Homo sapiens: one gene and its partners. The protein of the gene in region 2 interacts with the protein of the main gene of each other region in a pairwise test. Each region holds a gene or a part of one and is shown on either strand. Other genes may lie near its edges.

What was found.
Region 1: the proteins of LMO4 (region 2) and REDIC1 interact in binary tests that used the Homo sapiens proteins (3 or more experiments, as listed by UniProt).
Region 3: the proteins of LMO4 (region 2) and KRT15 interact in binary tests that used the Homo sapiens proteins (3 or more experiments, as listed by UniProt).
Region 4: the proteins of LMO4 (region 2) and ARNT2 interact in binary tests that used the Homo sapiens proteins (3 or more experiments, as listed by UniProt).

The regions. Positions count from the first base shown.
Region 1 is NC_000012.12:39,678,175-39,685,229, reverse strand, and holds part of REDIC1 (regulator of DNA class I crossover intermediates 1), read right to left. Parts: intron 2,620-7,055; coding exon 2,090-2,619; intron 1,816-2,089; coding exon 1,746-1,815; intron 1,110-1,745; exon of another isoform or gene 918-1,109; intron 364-917; coding exon 303-363; intron 1-302. UniProt on the Homo sapiens protein: Involved in recombination, probably acting by stabilizing recombination intermediates during meiotic crossover formation. Required for normal germline development and fertility.
Region 2 is NC_000001.11:87,345,867-87,349,465, reverse strand, and holds the end of LMO4 (LIM domain transcription factor LMO4), read right to left. Parts: 3' UTR 543-3,599; downstream 1-542. UniProt on the Homo sapiens protein: Transcription cofactor. Plays a role in establishing motor neuron identity, in concert with MNX1, acting, at least in part, to disrupt LDB1-LHX3 complexes thereby negatively modulating interneuron genes in motor neurons.
Region 3 is NC_000017.11:41,513,239-41,515,939, reverse strand, and holds the end of KRT15 (keratin, type I cytoskeletal 15), read left to right. Parts: coding exon 1-55; intron 56-247; coding exon 248-468; intron 469-1,265; coding exon 1,266-1,291; intron 1,292-1,799; coding exon of another isoform or gene 1,800-1,819; coding exon 1,820-1,917; 3' UTR 1,918-2,195; downstream 2,196-2,701.
Region 4 is NC_000015.10:80,399,479-80,407,410, reverse strand, and holds the start of ARNT2 (aryl hydrocarbon receptor nuclear translocator 2), read right to left. Parts: upstream 3,030-7,932; 5' UTR 2,896-3,029; coding exon 2,865-2,895; intron 1-2,864. UniProt on the Homo sapiens protein: Transcription factor that plays a role in the development of the hypothalamo-pituitary axis, postnatal brain growth, and visual and renal function. Specifically recognizes the xenobiotic response element (XRE).

The DNA of each region.
Region 1 (7,055 bases), on a different chromosome or scaffold from region 2:
TTCTTTATAGCAATGCAAGAATCAACTAATACAGAAGTTTTGTAATACTTAAAAAATGTGTTTAAAATGTCCTCAAGATTTTGTCTCAAATAAAACATGTTAACAGTCTCTGAAAACGTGTTTTTATTTCTAGATCTAAGCTATAATTTCCTCAGAATAAAAAAGTATAAGAAAAAGAGTCCATCCAATAAAAATTAATGAATAAATGTTAAGCTTAAATCAAAGTGAACGTTAAATACAGTAATGTGATATGGTAATACAAACTGACTTAATTGAGAAGATAATGTGAGACTGTGCTTTACCTCATCAAGTCCAAAGTCCCATGACTGCTTAGAGTGCAATTCTTCCGAAGGTATATTTCCCCTAAGGATTATAAATACACAGTATCAAAGTTTGTTGTGTTCCCTCTGGGAATTATTGTTCTAAATTAGAGTTCCCAAACTTGGCTTCAGATCAGAATTATATGGGAAGCTTTCTTAAAAATAAAGATTCATAAGCTCCATGCCAAGGAGCCCACCTATTATGTGCGGGTCAATCTTGGTATTCTATAGTTTAAAATCACTACCTCAAGTAATCTGGACCTGCAGTCAGGATTGGGAACCATGTTCTAAATTGCTTTCATAAGGTACATTTAAAACTCAAGGCCTAACATGATTTTTTCACTCATAAATTTCTAGATATTGGGAGATATAACAACAAAAATACAAATTTGCCAATTTTATGAAATGTTTTGTAAGTCTATGTTTTAATTAATTTGTAGTGCCAATCCCACTAAAATTGCATCTTTTTATCAATCAATATTTTTAATAATTCCACAAGAAATCACTTCCAGAATAAAAATTTATTCTAGTTCATGATTTCCAACCAGAAAGATTTGGCTAAATTGTAATTATTACCAAGAAAGTTAGGACTATTACCAAGAAAGTTAGGACTATTTTAGCTAGAAACTACTAGCTAAAATAAAGTTTTCTTTAGTTACTTATAATTGCAGGTCATTATTCAGAAAAGCCTGGAAGGCAGTTCTCAAACTTTTAAGGAATAAATTTAACATCAACACATAATGGATGAGTGTAAAAATCACCTTAAACTCAGAACATTTTGTACACCAGCTGCAAGAAGAGAAAGAAAAATCTGGTGAAACATAATTGTTTTCAATGTATGGGTAGAGGAGATTGTAATCTTGAACATAGAGAAAACATGGAGTCTCTGAGAGGTAAATGTTGGCAATGAGAAGAGTGCTCTATCCCTAAAATGTACACTGTCCTATAAACTGCTGATATGCTTGCTTATGCCACTAACATCTGAATTCTATCACTCCCTATAGTGATTCTATACCAACCAAGCAAGCAACCTTCCCACTGAGAGCTGTTTGAAAGTAAGAAAATATGCTTTTTCATGTCAATAAGACTTCCTATACATGTTCCCTTTCTATTTATTACTTTAAGTTAATAAATTGACATTCTGGCGGATATGAGTTTCTTGAACACATTAAATCAATTTCCTCAAATCTAATCAACACTAATATTCAGATAAGAAGGTATTTGGGAGCTGGCAAATATGAGCACCACACTCTCAACTGGGGTGATATTATCAACACTGTGACTCCTGGTAAGGCTCCTTTGAGACCAGGTTGCCTGCCCACCCTCAAATGGCAATACGCCTACCTCACTTTGCATCAATTCAACATTCATCATGCATCATACTAGATCCTGATTTGTATTCCCCAGATTTACCTAAAAACTTACATAGAGTTTGCTGGATATTTCTGAATACTTTTCTGTGGTGTCTTCTCTTGGTAATCATTTTCAAATTTTTCTTAAAAAATAAAAGTATGCACCGAGTTAAAAATTTAGCATAGTCTATTTTCATTTTTTAATTCAAAGCATATTCACATGACACGTACAGAGGAAAACCACTGGTCCACAATGTTATATAATAGGAAGCCATTCTATTTTTGGTTTCATTTTCCTCCAAACACATAAACACACATACAAATATATAGATGTGTGTGTATGAATATACAAATATATATACTAAAACTGAAAGAAAAAAAGAATATGTAATTACATTTTCCATGTACAATACCAACCTTTTCTTTCAGAGCTGCTTGGGTAGTAATCGTTCTCAAAAGATGTACTAAGATCATTTCTTTCATTTTTGTTATACTCTCTCTGATACTTCTTGTTTGGCTGACATTTTTCTGGATAACTTGTTTTATTCAAAGTCGAATTACTAAAAGTCAACTCTGGAACTGTAAAAATGTTTCTAATGCATCTGTCAGTGACATGGTTTTTATCAGAACTAGTGACTACACAAGTATCTCCCATACTATCATAATCACACTTGTTAAATGTTTTCTTTATCCTTTGCTCATCTATGTTTAATACATTGATCATATTTTGACTAACAAAAGAGTCACAATTCTCTGATAGAAGGTTAGGAGTAGACTGGTTCACATCTTCAAGAAAATTTGAAACTTCCTTTCCATTTTTCCCCCAAATATGCTGTATTGAGTGTTTTTCAGTAATGTAGTCTGACTGTCTTATTTCATCCGTGCTTCTACAATCTTCATCCATAATTACAGCAGGGCTTTTAGTAAGTAAATTCCTATTTCCTAGACTTTGGGATAAACAAAAACATATTTAGCAAGAAAAGCATGGATTATTTGCATTTAGAAACTCTTACTTTCAATTCTTAGAGGACATATTGAGTTGCTACTAACATTTACCTAGACTATGTTTTTATTTTTTATATTTAAATAAATAATATTGCTTTGGGTGAAAATTTGTCTAATGTGGTCTTCTAATGACTTATTGAGTAAGAAAATAATCTACGGCCAGTTTTTTATTACAACATGAAATGTTAGCATGAGGTTTAATTAAAACATGACCAACCTATAGTATATTTTCTATAATAAAATCTAAAGAATAAACTAGACAACCACTATATGTCATTGCTGTTCCATTTAACCAGAGAAAGATGTTTTGAAGGCTGTGCAGAGAAAATTTATCACCAGTGTTAAAACATAAAATCAAATAGTTATGAGACCATTATAACATATTTTTCAACCTAATATGGATATAAAAACAATTATAAAGTTCCCAAGGAAGAGCAATATAAATACAAATGTGTATATACATAATAAAACCAAGAGATAAGGTGAATTAGATAAAAACTAATTAGATGAGTTAGATAACTTGTAAGTTCTATTCTAATGCAGAAATAATTCTAGGTTAAGTCCAATTTGTGCACAAGAATCAAAGATATAGTGGAAAATAATTACAAATCAAGATGTTTCTTATTTTATTGTCAGTGACTACAAATTTATTTGGAAGTGAGTTGTTCCAGAGGTTGGAGTTATCAAAAAAATTAGGAAAAAAAACCACAGATTGCTAAAACTCTAATAACTATTTTTAAATTATTTATCAAATATTTGATGATCACCTACTCTGTTCCAGGTACTAGGCCATATATTGGCAATAGAGAGATAAAAGAGCTCAGCTTGTTGTTAAAGAGAGAGATTAATGTTTTACCCATGAATGTTCACAGCTCATGATCCTACGTTGTTTCTCAATGAGGGCCTTATTGGTGTTTTAGACAGAATGATGTTATTTTGCTATACCAAAAGACACAGTATATAGTATGCACTAATATACACCATTAACATGAGGAAAATATCTGTTACTCTACATAAAATAGAGGTAAATGCACTTTATAAGATATTAAGCACACTATAAATGTAAATCTTTTTTTATTATTCTTTCAATAGTTTTTGGGAAATGGGTGATGTTTGGTTACATGAACAAGTTCTTTAGTGGTGGTTACTGAGATTTTGGTGCAGCCATTACCCAAGCAGTGTACACTGTACCCAATGTATAGTCTTTTATCCCTCATCCCTCCTCCACCCTCCACCAGAGTCCCCAGAATCCATTATATCAATCTTTTTTGTGTGTGTGGGAGATGGAGTTTTGCTCTTTTCATTCAGGCTGGAGTGCAGTAGTGCAATCTTGGCCCACTGCAACCTCTGCTTCCTGGGTTCAGGCAATTCTCCTGCCTCAGGCTCCTGAATAGCTGGGATTACAGGTGTGTGCCACCACACCCGGCTGACTTTTGTGTTTTTAGTAGAGACAGGGTTTCACCATGTTGGCCAGGGTGGTCTCAAACTCCTGACTTCAGGTGATCCACCTGCTTCAGCATCCCAAAGTGCTGGGATTATAGGTGTAGGCCACCACACCCGGTCCATTATATCAATCTTATGCCTTTGTGTCCTCAAAGCTTAGTTCCCACTTATAAGTAAGAACGTAACAATGTTTGGTTTTCCATTCCTGAGTTACTTCAGTTAGAATAATAGTTTCCAACTCCATCTAGGTTGCTGTGAATGCCATAATTTCATTCCTTTTTATGGCTGAGTAGAATTCCATGGAGTGTGAGTGTGTGAGAGAGTGTGTGTGTGTGTGTGTGCGTATGTATTTTCTTCACCCACTCATTGGTTGATAGGCATTTAGGCTGGTTCCATATTTTTGTAGTTGTGAATTGTGTTGCTATAAACATGCACATGCAAGTGTCTTTTTCATATACTGACTGATTTTCCTCTGGGTAGAAACCCAGCAGTGGGATTGCTGGATCAAATGGTAGTTCACTTTTAGTTCTTTAAGGAGTCTCCATACTGTTTTCCATAGTGGTTGTACTAGTTTACATACCCACCAGCAGTGTAAAAGTATTCCCTTTTCACCACATCCATGCCAACATCTATTATTTTTTCATTTTTTAATTATGACCATTCTTGTAGGAGTAAGGTGGTGATTGCATTGTGGTTTTGATTTGCATTTCCTCCATCTTTAGTGATGTTGAGCATTTTTTCATATCTGTTGACCACTTGTATTATCTTCTTTTGCAAATTGTCTATTCACATACTTAGCCCATTTTTTGATGGGATTACTTGTTTTTTTCTTACTGATTTGAGTTCCTTGTAGATTCTGGATGTTAGTCCTTTGTCAGATGCATAGTTTGGGAAGATTTTCTCCCACTTTCTGGGTTGTCTGTTTACTTTGCTGATTATTTCTTTTGCTGTGCAGATTTTTATTTTAATTAGGTTCCATTTGTTTATTTTTGTTTTTGTTGCATTTGCTTTTGGTTCTTGGTCATGAATTCTTCGCCTAAGCCAATGTCTAGAAGAGTTTTTCCGATGTTATCTTCTAGAATTTTTATGGCTTCATGTCTTAAAGTTTTTTATCAATCTTGACTTGATTTTTATATAAGGTGAGAGATGAGGATCCAGTTTCATACTACATGTGGCTTGCCAACTATCCCAGCACCATTTGTTGAATAGGGTATTCTTTCCCCACTTTATGTTTTGGTTTGCTTTGTCGAAGATCAGTTGACTTTAAGTATTTGGCTTTATTTCTGGGTTCTCTATTCTGCTCCATCTGTCCACATACCTATATTTATACCAGTGCCATGCTGTTTTGGTAACCATAGCCCTGTAGTATAGTTTGAAGTCAGGTAATGTGATGCCTCCAGATTTGTTCTTTTTGCTTAGTCTTCCTTTGGCTCTGTGGGGTTTTTGGGGTGCATATGAGTTTTAGGATATTTTTTCTAGTTCTGTGAAGAATGATATTGGTATTTTGATGGGAATTGCATTGCATTTATAGATTGCTTTTGGCAGTATGGTCATTTTTACAGTATTAATTCTACACATCCATGATCATAGGATGTGTTTCCATTTGTTTGTGTCATCTATGATTTCTTTAAGAAGTGTTTCTAGTTTTTCTTGTAGATATCTTTCACCTCCTTGGTTAGGTGTATTTTATTTTTTGCAGCTGTTGTAAAAGGGGTTGAGTTCTTGATTTGATTCTCAGCTTATTCAGTGTTGATGTATAGCAGTTCTACTGCATTGTGTACATTGATTTTGTACCCTGAAACTTTACTGAGTCCATTTATCAGATCTAGGAGCTTTTTGGATAAGTCCTTAGGGTTTTCCAGGTATACTATTATGTCATTGGTGAACAGCAACAGTTTGAGTTCCTCTTTATCTATTTGGATGCCCTTTATTTCCTTCTCTTGTCTGATTGCTCTGGCTAGGACTTCCAGTACTACGTACAATAGAAGTGGTGAACTCTTGTCTGACTGTTCTGGCTAGGACTTCCAGTACTATGTTGAATAGAAGTGGTGAAAGTGGGCATCCTTGTCTTGTTCCAGTTCTTGGGGGGAATGCTTTCAACTTTCCCCCATTCAGTATAATGCTGGCTGTGGGTGTGTCATAGATGGCTTTTATTATCTTAAGGTATGTCCCTTTTATGCTGATTTTGCTGAGGGTTTTAATCATAAAGTGATACTAGATTTTGTAAAATGCTTTTTCTGCATCTATTGAAATGATCATATAATTCTTATTCTTAATTCTGTTTATGTAGTGTATGATATTTATTGACTTATGTGTGTTAAACCATCCCTGCATCCCTGGTATGAAACTCACTTGATCATGATGTATTATCTTTTGGATATGCTGTTGGATTCAGTTAGCTAGTATTTTGTTGAGGATTTTTGCATCTATATTCATCAGGAATATTGGTCTATAGTTTCCTTTTTTTTTTTTTTTTTTTTGTTATGCCTTTTCCTGGTTTTGGTATTAGGGTGATACTGGCTTCACAGAATGATTTAGGGAGGATTCTCTCTTTATCTTTTGGAATAATTTTCAGTAGGATTGGTACCAATTCTTCTTTGAATGGCTGATAAAATTCAGCGTGAATCCATCTGGTCCCGGACTTTTTTTTTGTTGGCAAGTTTTAAAAATGCTGTTTCAATCTCACTACTTGTCATTGGTCTGTTCAGAGTTTCTATTTCTTCCTGGTTTGATCTAGGAGGGTTGTATATTTCTAGGAATTTATCAATCTCCTGTAGATTTTCTAATTTGTATGTGTAAAGGTGTTCACAGTAGCCTTGAATAATTGTTTGTATTTCTGTAGTATCAGTTATAATATCTCCCATTTTGTTTCTAATTGAGCTTATTTGGGTCTTCTCTATTCTTTGTTAATCTTGCTAATGGTCCATCAATTTTA
Region 2 (3,599 bases):
GAAGAAACTCTAACTTAAGAAAAAACTTGCAGCTCAAACAACAGGTGAAAGCACACAAATATAGAAACTGTTTTTGAAGAAGTTGGGGATGTTAACCTTTTAGTTCAAGATGGGGGGTTGTTCCAGAGTGAAGGAAGGTGAGATGCCTCCCGTTCTCATGAGCTAATGATTGTTTCCAAACTGGTTAGAATTCAGTGCTAATTGCATTTTAAAACACCACCTCTGAAATCCTTTTCTCTCTCAGGATCTTGCATCAATGTTTCACATTTTCAATGCAACCTTTGCACTTCACCTTTCTCACTCAACAAATTCTGAATGTCAGATCTACGGGAAGAACTCAGTTCAGATCCTTCCTCTCCCCAGCAGGTTTTGATCTGGTGATGGTGATGTCAATTCCTAGGAAAGGCTGTCCTGCCCTGGTTCTGAGGGGAGAGAGACAATTAAAATCGGTACTTTGGTGACTCTACTCAGGCTTGTCCATTCTAACAGGGAGTCATTAAACAACTTTCCAGTGTCATTCAAAGAACTTATAACAGAATCAATTGATTTTCATCCTCTGCTTTATTAGTTGTGATTTAGGAAATAGAATGGCCCTGTTTACACAGCTGTAACATGTCAGGGCCTGTAGTACATTATTGGCTTGAGGCCTCCGAGTTGCCGTCCATTCTCAGCAGAATCAATCTGAACTTGAAAACATTCCCTCTAGGAAACATGCACATATCTACTAGCATAAAGCACTTCTTGCACAACTGAAAACAGTATTCACTTGAGGTAAGTTGCAAGTTCACCTTCCAAAAATCAGCCCTGACTTGTCATTGCTCTCAGCATGTTCACGATGGGAGCAGAGGGCTACAAATGCCTCTTTAACTAGGTACCCAGCATCGGCGAATGTGCTACACTTTGCTGCTAGTCAGATCTCAGACTCTGCAAGTGGGAGTAGCTGGCTGTTTAACATGCGTTCAGAGCACTGCCAATCTAAAATGGCTGCTCAGTAATACTTTAATTGCAGTTTCATGGAAACAAATTGCTATTTAACTGCAATAAGCACTTCTGTGACTTGGCTGCACTAACAATAGGTGAGTCTTAGTAACAAAGCTATAAGTAACATTAACTTGTAAATGGCCTTTTTCCAATGGCCTCTTGAAGGGGTCATAGGTGGGACAGCACCCAGGATAGAATTCCCTGGTGAAGGGTGAAGGGGTCTTTGGGGTGAAGGGTGATGGGGTTTTTGGATCTCCTCAATTTAAATACAATTAGTTAGGCTACATGGGAACTCTTCACTAGACTCCATATGTAGCTCTTGGGTTCACTGTTTATTATATGATTTATGGGCCCTAAGAAATATTTTATATAAATAGTAGTGCACATTAGAATCTTACTATATTGACATTTAAAGCCCTTTAAGAGCTTCCTTTTAGATGATTAGTTGTTTCAAATATCAGTGTTAATAAGGGCAAAAGAAAGAATTTAAATACAGGTAATATTAAGAGGATGACAATTTCACAGACTTCATTTTGGTGTGTCAGTTTTCTCGTTTTGTATTTTATAAGACACTACAGTCCGGGTTAAACTATTTCCTAATAAATCATGAAGAGCTGAAAATAGTTTCTAGTGGCAAACGATTTGGTTTGGAAAAGCTTCAGGCTCCCCTGCCTTGCGGGATGTGTAAATCTAATTAGACAGTTAGATAGGTAAAAAACATTAAACCCTTTTAGAGGACTATCTTTTTACAAAATTGTTTCATTAACAAGAGTGACAATTTGCATGATTGAGACATTTATATGTACCATAAACATAATTTTTTTTATCAGGAGTTCAGCAGGGCTCAGTAACATTTGCTTTTATTTTTAATTGCACTTGCTTGTAGGGACTGGGGGCCATCTTGCTCTATGACGTGGTTAATATTAAATAAGTCCTTTCTAAAGAACAGTGTCCATCTTGCTAACTAATAACATCACAAATGCAATGGATGAAAGGTGGAATAAACTCATAGATTTTTTTTTTTCCTAAGCAATGTTGAGATTGGGGGAGGAACTGCACACAATCGCTGCTCACATCAGAATAAACCTGAGTGTTTTTAGTAGCTTTCTATCCACACAGAGCATCCCCATTAGAGCCGGGTTTTATTGTTTGAAATGCCTCTGGTTTCAAGAAAGTGTTTTACCTAAAGCAAGACTACTACTTAAATATGTTCTATTGTATATTCATAGCTCCATTAGTCCTTCTCCAATTTAGCACATCAAAGAGAAGGCTTCATCACTTGCATGTGGATTATACTAACATGAGTGACATTTGTAATCTTATAGGTCTGCAACTTAAGAAATGCTTTTAGAAGCTCATTATTAAATACGCAGCAGTGCTTGAGGAACCAGCCATATAATAGTTTATTTAAAGTCCGTAATGACCTTAGCCCTCCACATCATTAAATGCGACAATATATTATTTACTAAAGTTATTAACCACCTCCTTTGAATTTGTACATATCAGGGACATAAGTGCTTATGCCAAAAAGAATATAGAAAATGCCTGCAATCTCATTAACCCATTTCCCCCTTTACCATCGCAGTCTAACTTCCTTCAGAAAGTTCCTTAAAGGAAAAAAAACAAATATAAGAACCAGAACTAGTTTGAAGAAATTCCCCAAGGATCTAATTCAAACAGACATCTAATTCAAACATATATATGTGATTTCTTCATATTATTTTCTTGCATTTTATTTTTATAAGGTTCTAACAAAACTATTCACCTCAACTCTATGCCTTTACAATCTCCTCTAGGAGGTTTGAAGTTCAACTGATTTTTTTTTTCCCCTGCCCTGGAATCTCTGAAAACAGGAAGTGAGCACAGAAGTTCTCAAAGGGAAGCTGACTGGTAGTTGAGATGTGCTGAGCTACACCTCTCTACATGGCTCCACGGCTATTCTCAGAGGGAGGGTCTACATCAGGCGCTTTTCTGGAACAAAATAAAATGCCATCTTAAAAAAGAAAATTTAAAATAGTAGCGTTCACACACCTGGTTTTATTAGCCTGTGATGGAAGTTGTAGTTGAAATTTGCTCACATCTAAGGAAGCTGGCAGTACAACCTCAGCCTCCAGGCCTATTTGGTTTTCCTCCTTCCAGCACTAGCTGTTATACTGCATGCTTTCCGGAGGGCAGCTCTGCGGGCAGTGCAGGCACTGTGGTGGACACTCTGCTGCCTGCAACCAGCAACTCAGTATCTCAAGACTAAGACTAAATGAAGTCAGAATCTTCCCCCAAAATACATACGGAAACGCAGTCAGTAAAGAAGTGTAGGAGCAAAACAAAATAAACACCTTACAGCCAACCACACGAGCCTAAGGGTCACCAGGAAATGGCTACTTCACCAATCAAAGATCACCATAAAAAAAGAGCTCTGGGTCCCTACAACTAAGTGAGCTTCAAAATATGTACAGGTATGACTTAGAAATTGTGACTTCCTTCAAAAGCTATAAACTCAATAAGAGAACAGGATGGTTGTGCCGTATTTTTTTTTATACATACTTTTCATCAATACCCAAGGCTTTGTTTGCTATTGAGAAAAAGAATAAACAAAATAGTGGACACTCAAGTATTTATAA
Region 3 (2,701 bases), on a different chromosome or scaffold from region 2:
CCTGAGACGCACGATGCAGGAGCTGGAGATCGAGCTGCAGTCCCAGCTCAGCATGGTACGGCCACTCGCGCCCCATCCCAGCCTCTCGGGTGGTAGAAGCTCCCACTCTTCCTGGCTATTTAAGCCTTGGAGTTCTCAAGCCCCCTCAAGAGGTGGTTCCCTGAACTCCATTCAGTGCCCCCTCCCTGCTTGCCCTCAGTGGCTTCCTTTCTAGCCTGATGTGTCTATGCATCTGTCACTCCCCCAGAAAGCTGGGCTGGAGAACTCACTGGCCGAGACAGAGTGCCGCTATGCCACGCAGCTGCAGCAGATCCAGGGGCTCATTGGTGGCCTGGAGGCCCAGCTGAGTGAGCTCCGATGCGAGATGGAGGCTCAGAACCAGGAGTACAAGATGCTGCTTGACATAAAGACACGGCTGGAGCAGGAGATCGCTACTTACCGCAGCCTGCTCGAGGGCCAGGATGCCAAGTAGGCGCCTGGGCACAGGGGAAGGAGTGATGAGGGCTGCTTGTGGCTAGGGTGCAGGGTCATCCTAAGGGAATGGCAGGGTGTCCCTAAGCAGCCTTGAGGGACTGTGAAAAGAGAACTGAGCAAGGAGGGAGGATCTGGACTCCTCACTCTGGTCCTTGGCTGTTACCTGGGACAGGTCACTTCCTCTCTCTGGATCCGTGTTTCTTCTGTAAATGATAGAGGCTGGGCTAGTGGTAGTTAAGATCTAGTGCTCATTCCATTCTCTGCATGAGATAGATGGGTATTCTTGTAGTTCAGAATCTTGACCAGCTCAGTGGCTCATGCCTGTAATCCCAGCACTTTGGGAGTCCAAGGCGGGTGGATCACTTGAGGTCAGGAGTTCGAGACCAGCATGGCCAATATGGTGAAACCCCGTCTCTACTAAAAATACAAAAATTAGCTGGGCGTGGTGGCGGGTGCCTGTAATCCCAGCTACTCGGGAGGCTGAGGCACAAGAATCACTTGAACCCGGGAGGCGGAGGTTTCAGTGGGCTGAGATCGTGCCACTGCACTCCAGCCTGGGCGACAGAGTGAGATTCCGTCTCAAAAAACAAAACAAAACAAAACAAAATCTGTCTACTTGGGGATAGCAGGCCTGGATGGGCTAGCAGGATGTCCCACCCCTAGAGGAGTCAGATGTGTGGGTGGTGGTGGTGTAGGGTCTGAAGAACACTGCATAGCTATCTACATGAGCTTCCCTTACGGACACTTGAGCTTGTGCCCTTTGCTTAAATCAGCTTCCCTCTTTCTTTCAGGATGGCTGGCATTGCCATCAGGGAAGGTAGGAAGGCTTTACTCTTCTGGTGTGGGGTGGGGAGGGGAGATGTTGAAGCCACCACCCCCTTCGGAATAGGGAGGAAGGAGAAAGAGCCCAAACATCCCATTAGGTGGGAACATTCCCATTCATTAGATGCCTCTTCCCCAGTGGGAACTTCTGTCAGCCCCAGGTGAGATTGCAGCTGGTGATTTATTGAGAAACTTCCAGGTTGAGTAGGCTTCATTCAGGGCATGTCTCTCCCCCAGGCCCCATCTTCATACACTTCCGCTAAGATGCCCACAATTCATCCCCCTTCATGTGCAGCTTGAAAAACCCTGACATTGTTGCTCCCTGCCGGGCATACCTGCCATTGCCACTGCCCATCTCTGTGATGAGGAATTCAACACCAGATCTCTGGCAGCTCTTGAGGGATTGGCCAGTGGCCATTCTCAGGGGTGCTGTCTAGTTTTCCCAGAGCCCCGCCAAGGTCCTGGCCACCGTGGCAGAGCGGGGAGGTTCCCCCACTCTAAAGCCTACTCCTTCTCTCTCTAGCCTCTTCAGGAGGTGGTGGTAGCAGCAGCAATTTCCACATCAATGTAGAAGAGTCAGTGGATGGACAGGTGGTTTCTTCCCACAAGAGAGAAATCTAAGTGTCTATTGCAGGAGAAACGTCCCTTGCCACTCCCCACTCTCATCAGGCCAAGTGGAGGACTGGCCAGAGGGCCTGCACATGCAAACTCCAGTCCCTGCCTTCAGAGAGCTGAAAAGGGTCCCTCGGTCTTTTATTTCAGGGCTTTGCATGCGCTCTATTCCCCCTCTGCCTCTCCCCACCTTCTTTGGAGCAAGGAGATGCAGCTGTATTGTGTAACAAGCTCATTTGTACAGTGTCTGTTCATGTAATAAAGAATTACTTTTCCTTTTGCAAATATCTCTTGGCAGTATGTCCAGTTTTTCTTGATGGGGTCCTGGTTGGCCTCTGATCTCTGAGGAGACCCAGGGTCCACATGGTGATATCTCCCCCCACTTTGGCCTCTTCCCTGCGTGGCCACAATTCTTTTGGGTACCCAGGGCACCAGTGGCTGGGACAAACATAGTGCTACTCAGGTAATTTGCTCTTCTGGGTCACCATGGGGTGACCAGGGAAGTGAGGGTGGGGAGGTTCCCTAAAAAGAGTTTGGTGTACCCAGCACAGAACTCAACACATCTAATAATTATGAATATTTACCAAGTGACTGATCGCGTTGATTGTCTTTGTTCGCCATCCCATGGCTGGCATGATGCCAGGCACGCTCACCCATGGGGCTCATTTAATCCTCACCACTGTAGGTGGTCAGGATTTATTATTCCCACCTTAGAGATGAGGTCACTGGAGGCAGAGAGAAGAATAACTTGCCCCGGGCCTTGTGGATGGATGATAAGTAGCAGGGCTGGGCC
Region 4 (7,932 bases), on a different chromosome or scaffold from region 2:
ATTCCAAATTTGGACCTGTATTATATCCACAGAGTAACATGAGTAACATGAGCGTGAAGACCCCAACATCACCGGTCACCAACAAGACCCTAGAGAATCCCCACTACACATCACAGAAGAGTGTCATTGTAAATGGTTCTGCTGTTGTGAAGTGGTCAGCTGGGAAAAAAGGAACAAGTGGGGGCGTGGGGAGGTGACTGGCTGTGGCCTTTGTACCCTGGACACGAACTAGCAGCAGAAATAAATCCTGGTGCTTCCCCATCCATTTGGTTCTGTTTACCAAGCTCTTATTCTTTGCAAAGCAACCATATCTGGGGAAAGGAGGCAGGAAGAAAAAGGAATTCAAAGAAGTCTCACAAGCCCATGTGAGGTAGGCTCTGGGTGACAAGCTTGGGTACCATGGCTCTTTTTGTTGTAAATTGCCCATAGAATCTGAACTCTCTCTCTTTGGCTCAAACCCTGAGCCATGTCCCTTAAAATTAAACCCTTTCTCCCAAAGAAAAAGATGGAGATTCACATGGGGCAATAATAACACATCCCCACGGATCATCCTCAGGGGACCAGTAAAAGAAATGATGGTAAAAGGAAAGGTGATCACCTCAAGGAATTTTCCCTTGAGAAATTATCACCATGCTGAAGATCTCTGGTATAGCTGTCAACAGAGAAAAGCATCTGTCAAGCTGGCCAGGTGTTGACTAGCAACGCCAACAATACCCTATGCTTGTACCATTCAAGTCTCCCGCAGTCCAAGGCACAGGCACAGGCTTTCCTGTGCTTCACACCACGGGGCCAGGGGCAGTTACTCCATCTTTAGATCTTTAGTCCATGTAGCTCATGGAGCAATGTAATGGACAAAAAAGTTTTAAACAATGATGTCCTGGCATAGAAATTATGTAAATCACCAGGGATTTTATTCCTGTTCCCAGTGTATATTGGACTAAAATGTTTTCATTTAACATCTTTTGCTTTTTCTAATTTCATAACATTTACATCTATCAATTTTCCATTGATTTTGAAGTAGTTGAATGGGTTGAAATTGCAGCTTCAGTCACAGGCAAACTGGCACAGATTTGTTTTCAGACCAGCCACGTTCCTCCTCAGTGTTCTGGACAGAGGCCTCCTTGTCTGTTCTTCCAAGAGTCCCTATTTCTGCTGATGGAACTGCCTTCCTTGGAATTACACAGGCTCTTCACCTTGGTGTCTCCATGGACACCTCCCCTTTGTCTCTCCTTGGCCTCCTCCTTTACTCTTACTCCAAATCTAATCAGTGCCAAATCTGGAACTCTTCTACCCGCCCAGTGGTGCATTCCTTCCTCTCTGGTCCAGCCATGGCCACCAATTCTGGCCTCCCCAGCACCTGCCTCATTTCATGCTGGCCTCCCTGTCTCAAGTCTTGTTCCCTCCTTAGAATGTTTCCTAGACATAGCTGACAAATCAGTCTTCCAGAAAAAGTGATCATGCGATTTCCTTGTTCAATACCATTGAGGTCTCTCTCTCTCTCTCTCTGTCTCTCTCTCTCTTTTCTATTTTATTTTATTTTTCTGGTTCTTAGGAAGTGTGCAGAGGACTCTCCCTTAATGTGGAGAGAGAAAGTCCATACTCCTCAGTCTGTCCTTTAAAGCCTGGTCACATCCAAACAACTCAGTGTTAAATCCCACTGCTGCCTCTTATATCCCCAGTGCACCAACTACTCACTGACCTCTGCACTTGCTTAGAGCAAGTCCACTGTTACTTACGCCTGCAATGCCCCTCTGCTACTGGCTCTGTATATTCAAACATTCCCGTTTTCAAGGTTCAGCCGAAATGTCCAATCTCCAGAAGCCTTCCCTGGCCGCCTTAGATGAAAGGGATCTTTCATTCCTAATTCTATGATGAGAGACACTTTTCTTTGCTAGGCATTGCTGTTCCTCCCCCGACCCTCCCTATCTCCAACACATGACCTCCCTCTGCTGGGAATTTCCTGGGGGCCGCCCTCTGTGACTCTCCCTGCATCTTCCACAGGGACCCAGCAACCTGCCGTGCCCACAGCAGCCTCTGCACAACACCCAAAAGTTTGTACTAGCTTAGATGTTCACGTTTCTCTTCTCCCACACCCTGCTCATCAGGTAGGGAACTTTCCCAGTGAAAACGGAACTTCCCTACTACAATACCAAAACAAGTCAATGTTGCCACTTGATCAAGAACTCTTCCATTTTTGAAATATTTCCTAATGAGCTCAGTTGTCACAGACTGCACCCTGGGGACAGGTCAGACCAGAAAGCAGAGGATGTCACCTGGGCAGGACCAGGGCTGCTCCACGCTGGTGACCACAGGCTGGGTGTTTTGTGCCCCCGGAGGGTTAGGACACACAGCAGCCAGTCGCAAAGGGCGCAAAGGACCAGCGCTTAGTGGGCGGGGCGGGCAGGGGAGAGTCCCGGGAGTTGTACCCTGTTGAATCCCAGCTCCAAACTTTTCCCTCCGTCAGCGCGGAGCCCTCCACCAGCCAGGACTGGCTGACGCCGTGATGCCACAAAAGCCGGGACCGGAAGAGAAAAATGCGTGGGATGGGGAAGGCAAAGGCGGTTATTTTCAGAACTTCGGGGGCTCCCGGGCCTGCCCTTCGGGTTCCCGAGGATGCGAGGCCAGCGTCCGGCCGCCCGCGGGTCCGGACCGGCGCCTGCCCGGGACCGGATGGGCAGCGATTGGGATGCAGATGCCGCTCTGGTGCTGATGCTGCGGCTGCCGCGTAGTGACAGCCGCTCCACCACCCACCGCGCCGAGCTGCGGCTCCGCGCCCCCGGGGGCGCCCGGCGCGCCTGGTCCGCTCCGGCCCCGGGCAAGGCCTGCGGGCTGCGGCGGGCGGCGGGGCCCAGGCCGCTACTCACCCGGAGGGTTGACCGCCGCCGGGGTTGCCATCTTGCTCGGAGAGGATAGGCGCCCGCTTGGCAGGGGCGCGGGAGGGGCGGCGCGGAGCCCGGCGCTCAGCCCCGGGGACCCGGTCAGGCCCAGGCGCCGCCGCCGCCACACAAAGGACGGCGCGGGCGGGCGGCGCTCCCTCCGCTCTCCCCGCCGCCGCGGCCGCTCGCCGTCCCCGCCTTTCTCTCCTCCTCCTCCCCCTCCTCGGCCTCCTCCTCCCGGTTCAGCCTTTGTCGCGCGGCGGGGGGCGCCCGGCCCGCGGCTCCCCGGTCAGAGCGGTAGCACCGCGAGACTTGGGGCTGCGGACGGCGGGACCCCCAAGTTGGGCGCCGGCGACTGGCGGGGGCAGAGGGCCGGGCGCTCCCTCGGGCTCGCGCAGGTGCTCGGGCCTGGCCGGGCTGGGACCGCAGGCGCCTCTCCCGCGCTCGCCTAGCCCGGGCTGCCCCCGCACGCCCACGCCCCAGGTGTCCGGGCGCGCTTTACCCAGGGGCGCCGTGCCCAGGCCAGGAGGCCAGGGCGGAGCGGGTGAGGGAGAAGCCCATTTAGATTCAGAGGGAAGCCGGTCCTGGGAGACGGCCGCGAGGAACAAAGGCGCCCCAGTGCTGCCCACTTAGCATGCCAGAGCCGCGCTGCTCGGCTCCCAGGCCGGGGACACGGCCCGGTGTTAAGCGGAGGGTGCCCGACCGCGGGAATTCCTAAGGCCACGCGCACCTCCAAGGCCACCGCCGCACACAGCTTCGGAGTGCACAGTGCACACGCCCAGGCACAGGCAGCCGGCCCGAGAAATTGTGAATGTCTTGGCTTTGAGTAAGGCGCTCATCTCTACCCTCCTTCCATAATGACTGCCGTTGATTATTACTTGAGGGCGCTGCAAGGGCCTTATTTACACCACCAAGTTGAGAATTTAAAAAGATTTTTTTTTTTAAATAGGTTTATCTGCGTATCCTGGCGAAGTTTGGATGCAGAGAACTTGGAGCTGTTGTTTTCTACCAGACACTAGGATCCCTGAGAGAGGTAATGGCCCCTAGGAAGGACACGTCACCATCGGGGTCCCCTGTAAAGGTTAAATGGAAGAATAAAGACATCCCAGGTGAACGCTGAGAAGGGCAAGTTGGTCCCTAAACGCAGATAATGTTTGCAGAGACATCAAACTGTCTTAAATCCTTCCAAGGAAGCATTTTCTGGAGGGCAGAAAATTTGGGATGTATGTTCAAATAAGCATTTTCTTCGGGGAGTATTTGTCACTACTAATCTAATAGTCTATCAGTTCTACAAATGTTGAATGTCTGCTGTGTGCCAGGCACAAAGCCAGGTGTTGGGCCTACCATGGAAAGGAAGAAACAGGAGCTCTGTTCTTCTGGTTTGGGGGGTAGAGTGGGGAAGAGTGAAACAAAGTATCTGCACTCAAGAAGCACACAGCTCCCTTGGGGGCTTAGGGCAGAAGCCCTGAAATTGGCATCTCCAGCCTGTAGTCACTAATGAATGAATGAGGGCAGAGAGGAGGTGGAGTGATCAGGGAAAATGAAAATTAGGCTTTGAAGACATGAGTAGGACAGGTGGAAAAAGAAGACATTTCAAGTAAAAAATAAAGCAGGTGTGCACCCAGCCACAAGATAGGCCAGGCCCAGACAGAGAAACCAGGGTATCAGCTATGGCCCGCTCTTGTGCCCCGTATCAAAGTTGACTGTTCCTGATTCCAACATCAAGCCAAATGAGAATTCAGCCTCTCTTCTACATACCCCGAAAAGCAACACACTCAAAATACCAACTTAATTAATGTATAACGTATACTGGACTGAAGATTTCTTAAGGAAAGTAAAAGAGGAGGCTCTCTTCACTCACTCCACATCAAAAAAGGTAAAACTCCATCTCAGATATTTCTGCTACCCAGAGTCCCTTCTGGATCCTTCTCCCCACAGGCAGTTCAATCTCTGGTGGCCCATAAATAGCCCATAAATAGCACTTGGCATCACTGCCCCCTATCCCACGAGGCTCTTTTATTCTCCAACTTTCCACACCCCTTAGAAGGAAGCAAGTTCCTCTCCTTGGTGTTTATGTATCAGTTTAGCATTTCAGCCAGGACCCATGGCTCATTTTGTCTCCAAATACAGTTCTAATATCATCCCTAAAAAATAAAATATGAGTGAACATGACTCTTACGCACACACACATTTAACCATACAAATTTGTTGACAAGTTTTACTTTCTTACTCTGCTGTTGTGTTCTGCCCATTTTTCTAAATGTTACTCGGCTGATATCTTTAAAACTGGATCTTGCTCAAGCTTCCTACTTCTTGCACTGGTCCATTGCAATAAAAGACAGGCGACACGTGGACAACTGCTAGACACTTCCCAAGTCTGGAGTCGGCCGTGCTGTGGTTTTTGGTACGTAATAAATACGTTTAGATTTTCACAAAGGAGACATTTCATCTTCTCCCCCAGTCAGTGTATTTCAGAGGTAGAAAGGACCTTCGACATCATCCAATTCTGCCCCTGGAGTTTGCAGATAAGGAAACTGAGGCTCAGGGTAGCCAACGTCATGCAGCTTAATAGCCAGACAAGACTTAGAACTGGGCTACGCACAATACTGGGATTTGGTGGCTGGAGTTGGGGAGCGGTTAGGGTGTAGGGGAAGAAATAGAGAAATGGGCAACTCGCCTTCTCTCTCGTCTCTCAGTATTAAATAGGTTAAATGCTCAGAAACACTGATTGTGGATGAAAGCCCCCCACTTAAGTAAACAATCTGAAATGGAGTGGTTAGTCATTGTTGAATACTGAGTGGCATTTACACAACACAGTGGTCTTGCGCTAATTATGAGAGTCAGTAGACTGTGACCAGTTAACACAGGCTCAGGAATTCCACTCAACCTTTAAACAACCCAGAACTCTTTGAAATTCCAGAGGAGGCTGTTGAATTTGAAGCTGAGATTTGCATTTTTGAAAAGATTAATGCAGATCCACCGGGCCCATAGCACACGATTCTGAGCACAGCGCTCCTAGAAATGACCAGAGTTGACCAGCTGCTGTGCTAATGTGTACCAGGGTCCACAGCCTTTCTTTCTTTCTTCTTTTTTTTTTTTTTTAACTTGATGGGAGAAAGCAGCCACCTGAGTTCTGCTTCATATCCCTTTAAGTCCTAATACTCGAGACAAAGGATTTCCATTGTATAATATATAATGATCCAAGGCAATTTTATCTTTTTTTTTTTTTTGAGACGGAGTTTCACTCTTGTTGCCCAGGCTGGAGTGCAATGGTGCAATCCTGGCTCCCCACAACCTCTGCCTCCCAGGTTCAAGCAATTCTCCTTCCTCAGCCTCCTGAGTAGCTGGATTACAGACATGCACCACCATATCCAGCTAATTTTGTATTTTTAGTAGAGACGGGGTTTCTCCATGTTGGTCAGGCTGGTCTCAAACTCCTGACCTCAGGTGATCCATCTGCCTTGGCCTCCCAAAGTGCTGGGATTACAGGCGTGAGCCACTGCACCCGGTTTTTTGTTTATTTGTTTTTGTTTTTTGTTTTGTTTTTTTTTTTTTAGATGGAGTCTCGCTTTGTCACCAGGCTAGAGTGCAATGGAGTGATCTCAGCTCACTGCAACCTCCAACTCCCTGGTTCAACCAATTCTCCTGCCTCAGCCTCCCAAGTAGCTGGGATTACAGGTGCACCCCCCACCAAACACTCCCAGCTAATTTTTGTATTTTTAGTAGAGATGGGATTTCACCATGTTGGCCAGGATGGTCTTGATCTTCTGACCTCGTGATCCGCCCACCTCGGCCTCCCAAAATGCTGGGATTACAGGCGTGAGCCACCATGCCTGGCTAATTTTATGTTCTTTTAACTTCACTTTAAGATATGAAGAAACCAGGAATGAACGCATGGGCTTCTGCAGAAGGAGAGGCATGGTAGGGCTGCCATGGATATAACCACAGGCTTTCTCTCCATTTATATGTCTCCTCTCAACCCTTCCTTCCTCCTCCATTCTTTCTAACTTCTCTCTCTCTCTTTGCTGGAGATAAAGGCTCATGGGTCTGTGTTATCCCCACTGCTACCTCCTTATCTTTATTTCTACACAGGTGACAACTGCCCACGGATTGTCTGTCCAGGCACTACCCCCAGCCCCCACCCCTGCCTTCTTCTCTATCAAGTCTCTCCTTTACACCAAGAATCATGGACTTATAACAGATCAAATGTGGATGAGATGTTAGTTTTATACAAAAAGGCATAAGCACCAGCCTTTGAAGCGAAAGTGTGGTGTAGGTTTTTGCTCTGTCACTTCATGAAACTTCTCTAAGTCTCACTTTCCTCACCTGGAAAATGGGGATGATGTTACCTACTGTGCTGAGTTTTGGTGAAGATGACATTGAAGGAAGTAATGTGTGTGCTGTATACACTTTAGAGACTTTAAAATGTATTGTGATAGTATTGCAGAGGGAAGAAGAAAAGTATGGCAAGTCTCTGTCCCACAGAGATAGGAAGGGGAAGCTTGTCGTGCTTTACCTTCATGGAGAGTGGAGAGAAGGAAGGAAGGAGGGTGGGAGGGGAAACAGGCAGTCAGACCCAGGTGCTCTAGTTTCCGTGGAAGGTATATCAAGGCAGCTGATGGAATAGCCAAAAGCAGAGGGGTTTCTGGCCACCACCCATGTGGGAGTCTTGGGGAAGATAACACACAGGGTGGTTCTGCAGGGATCGAAGGATGTAGCTGCAAAGCTGGGCTTTATATGGCACTCCTGGCTCCTCGTGGCTCTGTGAAGTATGCTAGGTGTCCCACAGGTGAGGAGACATGAAGGCATTGAGGGTCTAAATTAACAGATATCTGGGTGAGGACTAAAAGGCTATAGTAGGCAAGATTGAATGAACAAGGCCCCAAACCAAGGCCACAGATATCAGCTCTCAGTGTGAGTCTTCCTAAAGATACCTTAATTTTCACCAGCCAAATGACCATCCCAGCCCCTCAGAATGGAGGCGGGCAAGGCTCTAAGGCTCCCTTTTCTCCCACCACTCCCTCCTTGACCACCTAGACACCACCTTGAAGGGGAG